Linked DNA regions of Homo sapiens: region 1 is reported to be linked to region 2. Evidence: microRNA targets listed by miRTarBase, many of them from high-throughput screens and not tested one by one. Region 2 holds a microRNA gene; the other region holds the end of a gene's coding sequence.
Evidence for each region. The annotated mature microRNA hsa-miR-6796-3p reads GAAGCUCUCCCCUCCCCGCAG and lies in region 2 at 1,122-1,142, shown strand. An mRNA with a match to its seed (bases 2 to 7 or 8) in the 3' UTR can be bound and repressed. Matches are read on the target gene's strand: a 7mer-m8 pairs with bases 2 to 8, a 7mer-A1 pairs with bases 2 to 7 and ends in A, and an 8mer does both.

Region 1 (3,098 bases), not on the chromosome of region 2:
ATGTTCAGTTTGGACCAAAATTTAAGATAGCATTTGGTAGATATTTATGTCTGCGGTCTATTTGCAGTATTTTTATATAACCTCTGATTCTTGGGATATCCAGCCCCCATTTTCCTAACACAGCAGGGAAGACATATACATGTGGCCACTTAAATTAAAGGAAAAAATGGAGTAGGGAGATCCCAGGCTGCAAAAATATATACAAGCATTTACCTTTTCCAGAACTAAACACTTCTTCCATAAAAATATTAAATAGCCAAGCCCTATAGAACTAGGGCCAGGGCTACTTCAAATATAACTATTCTGTATTTTAAAAATATAGGGCAGAAAGCCTTTTGGGTGATATTTATATATTTTCACACAATATTTCTAGGTCCCTAAATGAATCATGAAGCATTATATAGAACCAAAAAAATGTATTTTCTTACATTATCTCTTAATTTAATTTCATAAATCTCTAGTAAATATTGTAGGTAACTACATTTCAGTATGAGAATTCACCTCAACAGGAAGTCTTTATAGAGGGCTTAATCTTCATTAGCCATATATTACCAAGTTCAGACTTATATAATGAACGGGTAGTTGGCAGACATTCGCTCTGTAAGACAAAGCAATAGCGTTTTTTCTCCCTACCAACAAAAAGGCAGAGTCCCTACTTTTAACAACCAGGGCTTTTAGAAACCACACAGTATTTCCTGGGGTACATGAAATAAAAAAACCATAGGGCTGGGGAGAGCCTAGCCTCCCCATTTACACTGAGCTGCTTGATGAGGCAACCCTTTCACTCATGTAAGTCTCTGCTTTATGATGGCAGTATCTTACAGTAGACAAGTTTAAAAAAATGTTTTTATTGTTGTTCCAGGATGTAAAAGGAAGAACATTAGGGACAAAAAATTGTTTTTCTTTTTTCCATATGGAACAGGGTTCTGCTGCTTATTCTTGGCTTAATATTACTTGTTCATGCTATGCCTCTGAAATGTGGCAAAAGTCCCTGATACATGAGCTATGAGGCTGTCCTCAGGGTTCAGCTATGATAGAGACTCAGCTGGCTTAGGCTTCATCCACTGCCAATGAAGTCAAATTTATAACAGCCACCTTGACAGTCGAAGCTAGGCCAAGTTAAAATAATTAATTCCAGAGAACTTCAAAGTGCATTAATCAGTTAATAATGGAGCAATCTAAACTTAAATAGTCGTGAGAAAAAAAGGAAACCCTGTTAAAAATTTTAGGGGTGAAAATATTGCAGATGAGGGTTATCAATCCAGTTCATGACAATGTAAAGAATGGAAATGACTACTCCAACATATGTCAGAGAAATGATAACTTTGAAGACTTTTAATTCACAGAGAATATATTCCTGTGGTTACTGGATGTTATCTTCCTTTCTTTTTAGCCAGTACCACAGCTCTCCCTCTCAAATGAAAATCTGATGTCAAAAGCTGTTTCACTGACCTCTATTTGGACTAGAAAGCACTCTAGTCTTTCTAGTCTTAAACTCCTTAACAATAATTAAATATAACTGAAGTTGTTGGATTATGATAAAACTATAAAGCATCAATTATATAGCGGAACATATAAAAATCACCAGAGACATCTTTAGATGAATTCAATTAAATTAATTCTAATTCTAGGCTAAGTTTTTTTTCCTTTTATTTATTTATCCCCCACCACGCTGCCCAAAAAAAAGACAGGGTCTCCCTATGTTGCCCAGGCTGGTCTTTAACTCCTGGGCTAAAGGGATCCTCCTGCCTCGGCCTCCCAGAGTGCTAGGATTACAGGTATGAGCCACCATGCCCGGCCCTAGGTTAACTTCTTAAAACAATGAAGGAATCACAGTGTTAACATTGTTTGTAAAGTGTAGTATTTGTCAGGCAACTGAAACAATCAGACTTCCAAATGAAGTCATTTGCAGGCTGTGACCAACTTTTCCCTGAATTCAAATTGACAAAACTACTTTGTAGAGATGCAAGAGTCTTGCCTCACTTCCAGGAATGATGTATGGATTCATGCGCCAGAAAGGAAAAACAATAGTCAAGTCAGACTAAAATGAGAGGGAGAACACAAGCCCGAATTTTGCTCACATCCCCAGAAGCAGGAGTAAGCTTGCACTTTTAACAAATGCCTCTTACCAAGAGGCTTAATAGGAAAATCTTGTATATTGCAGTTACCAAAGGACTTCCCTGCATGTCTGCAGAATGTCTAAAAGAAAAAAACACTACTCCCAAGTGAGACTTTTGACACACATAAAATATTGTTGTTAAAGGAATAAACTAGTGGAATAAGACAAGGCAAATTTCATTGTTGTGTTAAAATCTCATGTTAAGCAAGGTTCTGACTAGTCATTTGCAGACCTGATTTCTGGAAACGCTGAGTAGAAATCACTGGGAGATAAATCTAAATGAGAACATTAATTTACTTACACTCAGATAACTCTCTAAAGAGCCATTGTCCAATTTTACAAGATGTGCAACAGGCAGAGAAGGACAAACATTGCAAATAAGTTCTTGCCCATTCATGGTGCAAGTTCTCAGAAGTTACTCTTGTCCAAATCCTTCTGTTTCTTCTATGGCAAACAACAGCTTTTCCTTCAGTTGCTCATAGCTCTTGTATGGTGGCAGGTCCAGGCGATTAAAACTAAAAGCAAGAATTGTTAGTTTGAGAAAAGGAAATATGCAAAGAATCAAATGAGTAGTGTAGTATACTACTTTATACACTACTATAGAAGCACAAAAATATACTACTGTGCTTCAAAGGATACCATCAAGAAAGTGAAATAACCCAAAAATGGGAAAAAATATTTGTAAATCATATATCTGATAAAGGACTGGTATCCAAAATATATAAAAAACTTAAAACTCAACAATATTTAAAAATGAACAAAGGATAGAGATTTCTCCAAAGACATACAAATGACCAATAAGCACATTAAAAAAATGCTCAACATCCTTTACCATGCAAATAAAAACCACAATGAGATACCACTTCACACCTGTTGGGATGGCTATTATTTAAAACACCAAAACAACAACAACAACAACCAAAAAAAAAAAAAAAAAAAAAAAAAACAGAAGAAAACAAGAGTTGAAAAGGATGTGAGG
Region 2 (3,244 bases):
TAAAAAAAAATTAGGAGGGTGTTGTGGTGCATGCCTGCAGTCTCAGATACTCAGGAGATGGAAGGAGGAGGATGGCTTGAGCCCAGGAGTTGGAGGCTGCAGCGAGCCGTGATCATGCCACTACACTCCAGCCCAGGCAACATAGCAAGACCCTGTCTCAAAAAAAAGAAAAAGAAAAAGTAATAATAATAATTACAAAAGTTAAAAACCAAAGCCAGGCATAGTGGTACACACCTGTGGTCCCAGCTACTTGGGAGGCTGAAGCAGGAGAATGACTTGAGCCTAGGAATTGGAGGCTGCAGTGAGCTGTGATCATGCCACTGCACTCTAGCCTGGGCAACATAGTGAAACCCTGTCTCTAAAAAAAAATTTTTTTATGTTAAAAAACCGTATGAGCTCCCACTCCCTGCTGGCTCCCTCTAAAGTGGTTTAAAACACAGATGTAGGAGGCAGATGGTCTGGGTTCAAATCCTGCTCCATAGCTGGATGTGGTGGTGCACTCCTGAGGTACTAGCTACTTGGGAGACTGAGGCAGGCGGAATGCTTGAGCCCAGGGATTGAAGATCAGCCTGGGCAACATAGCAAGTCCCTGTCTCAACAAACAAACAAACAAAAAAACAAAAACAAAATCCCACTCCACTACTGAGTTCTCTGTGGGGATTATAATTAAACCAGCCTCACTGGGTTGTGAGAATTCAGTGAGTTCGCTGAGAAGAGGCCTAGAACAGGGCCTGGCACACAGTAGGTTCCAGGGCATCCTTGACTGTTGCTGTTGTTGGCATCATCGTGCCTCACCCGATACCTTCCAGGACCCCCTGCCTGAGCCTCGCCCCCACCATACTGGGAGATGCCTGGAGGCCCTGCCTTGATGCTGAATTTTGAGAAAGTCCCTGGAGGGGCAGGAGGGGTCAGGAGGACTTGGAGGGGGATCACAGGGCAACTAATTATTAAAGCAGATAAAGATGTTTAAAACAGATAAGGAAGTCTTTTAATATTTTAATCTGTAAAGTCTTTAATCTATGCAGGCTAATGTAAAGTCTGTTTACTCCTAATCATGTCTCAAAATAACTCCACCGGGCATTACCTTGTGGGGTTGGAGAGCTGGCTGGTCCAGCCCCTCAGAAGCTCTCCCCTCCCCGCAGGGTGAGGAGGTCCTCCGGCAGCTGCAGACCCTGGCACCAAAGGGCGTGAACGTCCGCATCGCTGTGAGCAAGCCCAGCGGGCCCCAGCCACAGGCGGACCTGCAGGCTCTGCTGCAGAGCGGTGAGCTGGGGCCCAACTGGGGCTGGTCTGGGCCTGGGGGTACCCAGCCTGGCCCCTGATCTCTGCCCCTGCTGGTCACAGGTGCCCAGGTCCGCATGGTGGACATGCAGAAGCTGACCCATGGCGTCCTGCATACCAAGTTCTGGGTGGTGGACCAGACCCACTTCTACCTGGGCAGTGCCAACATGGACTGGCGTTCACTGACCCAGGTCTGTCTGCACCCTGTCTACCTTCCTTCCAGGCCACTCCCTGCCCCACAGGGCACCCAGCCTCCGACTGCATCCCTCACTCAATCCAGAGTCCTCTCCACCCATTCTCTGTAATGGCTTCCTTCTTGCCTCCTACCAGGCCTCCCTAATCCAAGCCATGCACGGTGGCTCACACCTATAATCTCAACACTTTGGGAGGCCAAGGTGGGAGGATTGCTTGAGCCCAGGAGTTGGAGACCAGCCTGGGCAACATAGTGAGACCCCATCTCTACCAAAAAAAAAAAAATAAGCCCGGTGTGGTGGCACACACCTCTGGTCCCAGCTCCTTGGGAGACTGAGGTGGGAGGATCACTTGAGCCCAGGAGTTTGAGGCTACAGTGGGTTGTATTCATGCCACTGCACTCCAGCCTGAGTGACAGAGTGAGACCCTGTTACAAAACAAAGAATCCCTAAATGGAGCCCTCTACTGCCCTCCCCCTGCTCCTGGAAGCCTGGGGCTCCCTCTGATCCCCAATTGCAGCTACCAGCCCCTCTACATGGCATTCAAGAACCTGCGCACCCATTTGATCTTCATTGTACATCTCTGTGTGCCTGCTCTAAGTCCAGCCCTATCCTGGGTAATGTTGGGAACATGGTGGTAACAGATGGACCTCATGGAACTCCCAGCCCAATGCAGACTGGCCTGTCACCTGACAGTGACAGCCCAGAGGGGTCAGGGCCGGGGTTGGGGAGACACAGGCAGAGGGTCAGGGCCAGGATGGAGGGAACAGAGGGCTGTGGAAGCTCAGAGACCCCAACCTGGGGCATTGGAGGGTTTCCCAAAGGAGGTATAACTAATCTGATCCCTGAAGGATAGGGAGGAATTAGCGCAAGATGGAACAGGAAACAGCTTGGGCAATGAGGTGAAGATAAGACAGGACAATAACTCATGAATTCATTTCCTCAACAGATAGTTCCCCTAACCTTTAATCTCAGCAATTATGCAGGGAGATGCTGTAGATATAGCTGTGACTGAGACATCCCTAGTGCCTGTCCTCCCAGCCCAATGGGAAGACCAGTTTGTCACCAGAAAGAATGAGGAGGGAATCCCAAGGGACTGTGAGAGCCCAGAGGAATGCCTGGTGCAGGCTGGGTAGTCATGGGAGGCTTCCTGAAGGAGGCAACATGTCAGCCTAGACCTAAGAATGAGTAGAAGCTAGCTCAGTGGAGGGTAGAAGCAACAGCAGATTGCAAACGTTCAGGAAACCTGGAGCTTTGGAATAACTGATTTTCATCAAAACTTAAGTTGATAATCATTCTAGGACTTTAGCTATTGGAGCTGGGGTGGAGGGGGTACTGTGGGACAGGGGGAAAGACAGAGACCAGACTGGGGAGTGTCCCTGTCATCTGTGAGCACTAGGCCGCTATCGCTGAGCTCAGCACTGCCCTCCTACAGGTCAAGGAGCTGGGCGTGGTCATGTACAACTGCAGCTGCCTGGCTCGAGACCTGACCAAGATCTTTGAGGCCTACTGGTTCCTGGGCCAGGCAGGCAGCTCCATCCCATCAACTTGGCCCCGGTTCTATGACACCCGCTACAACCAAGAGACACCAATGGAGATCTGCCTCAATGGAACCCCTGCTCTGGCCTACCTGGCGGTGAGTCTGGGGCAAGTGGGGCCTGTCATGTCCCAGCCCCATGCCGTCACTCACAGCCTCCATCTGTCCCTGTTTGGTGATGACAGGGAGGGCGTATCCTGACCATCAGTTCTCACCCCAGCTCATTCTGCTTGGT

Region 1: miRTarBase lists ITCH as a target of hsa-miR-6796-3p. The part of its 3' UTR that is shown has no 7-base or 8-base seed match.

The regions. Positions count from the first base shown.
Region 1 is chr20:34,507,231-34,510,328 of GRCh38, reverse strand. ITCH (itchy E3 ubiquitin protein ligase) reads right to left here. Exons shown (of 25, transcript NM_031483.7): 25 at 1-2,634. The coding sequence ends at 2,535. Among named protein-coding and RNA genes, the nearest start is that of DYNLRB1, 7.6 kb to the left of the region's middle.
Region 2 is chr19:40,368,766-40,372,009 of GRCh38, forward strand. It overlaps MIR6796 (microRNA 6796), which reads left to right and starts at 1,081; the gene lies at 1,081-1,142. It overlaps PLD3 (phospholipase D family member 3), which reads left to right. Exons shown (of 13, transcript NM_012268.4): 7 at 1,143-1,263; 8 at 1,345-1,472; 9 at 2,908-3,108. RefSeq lists an enhancer at 3,017-3,244.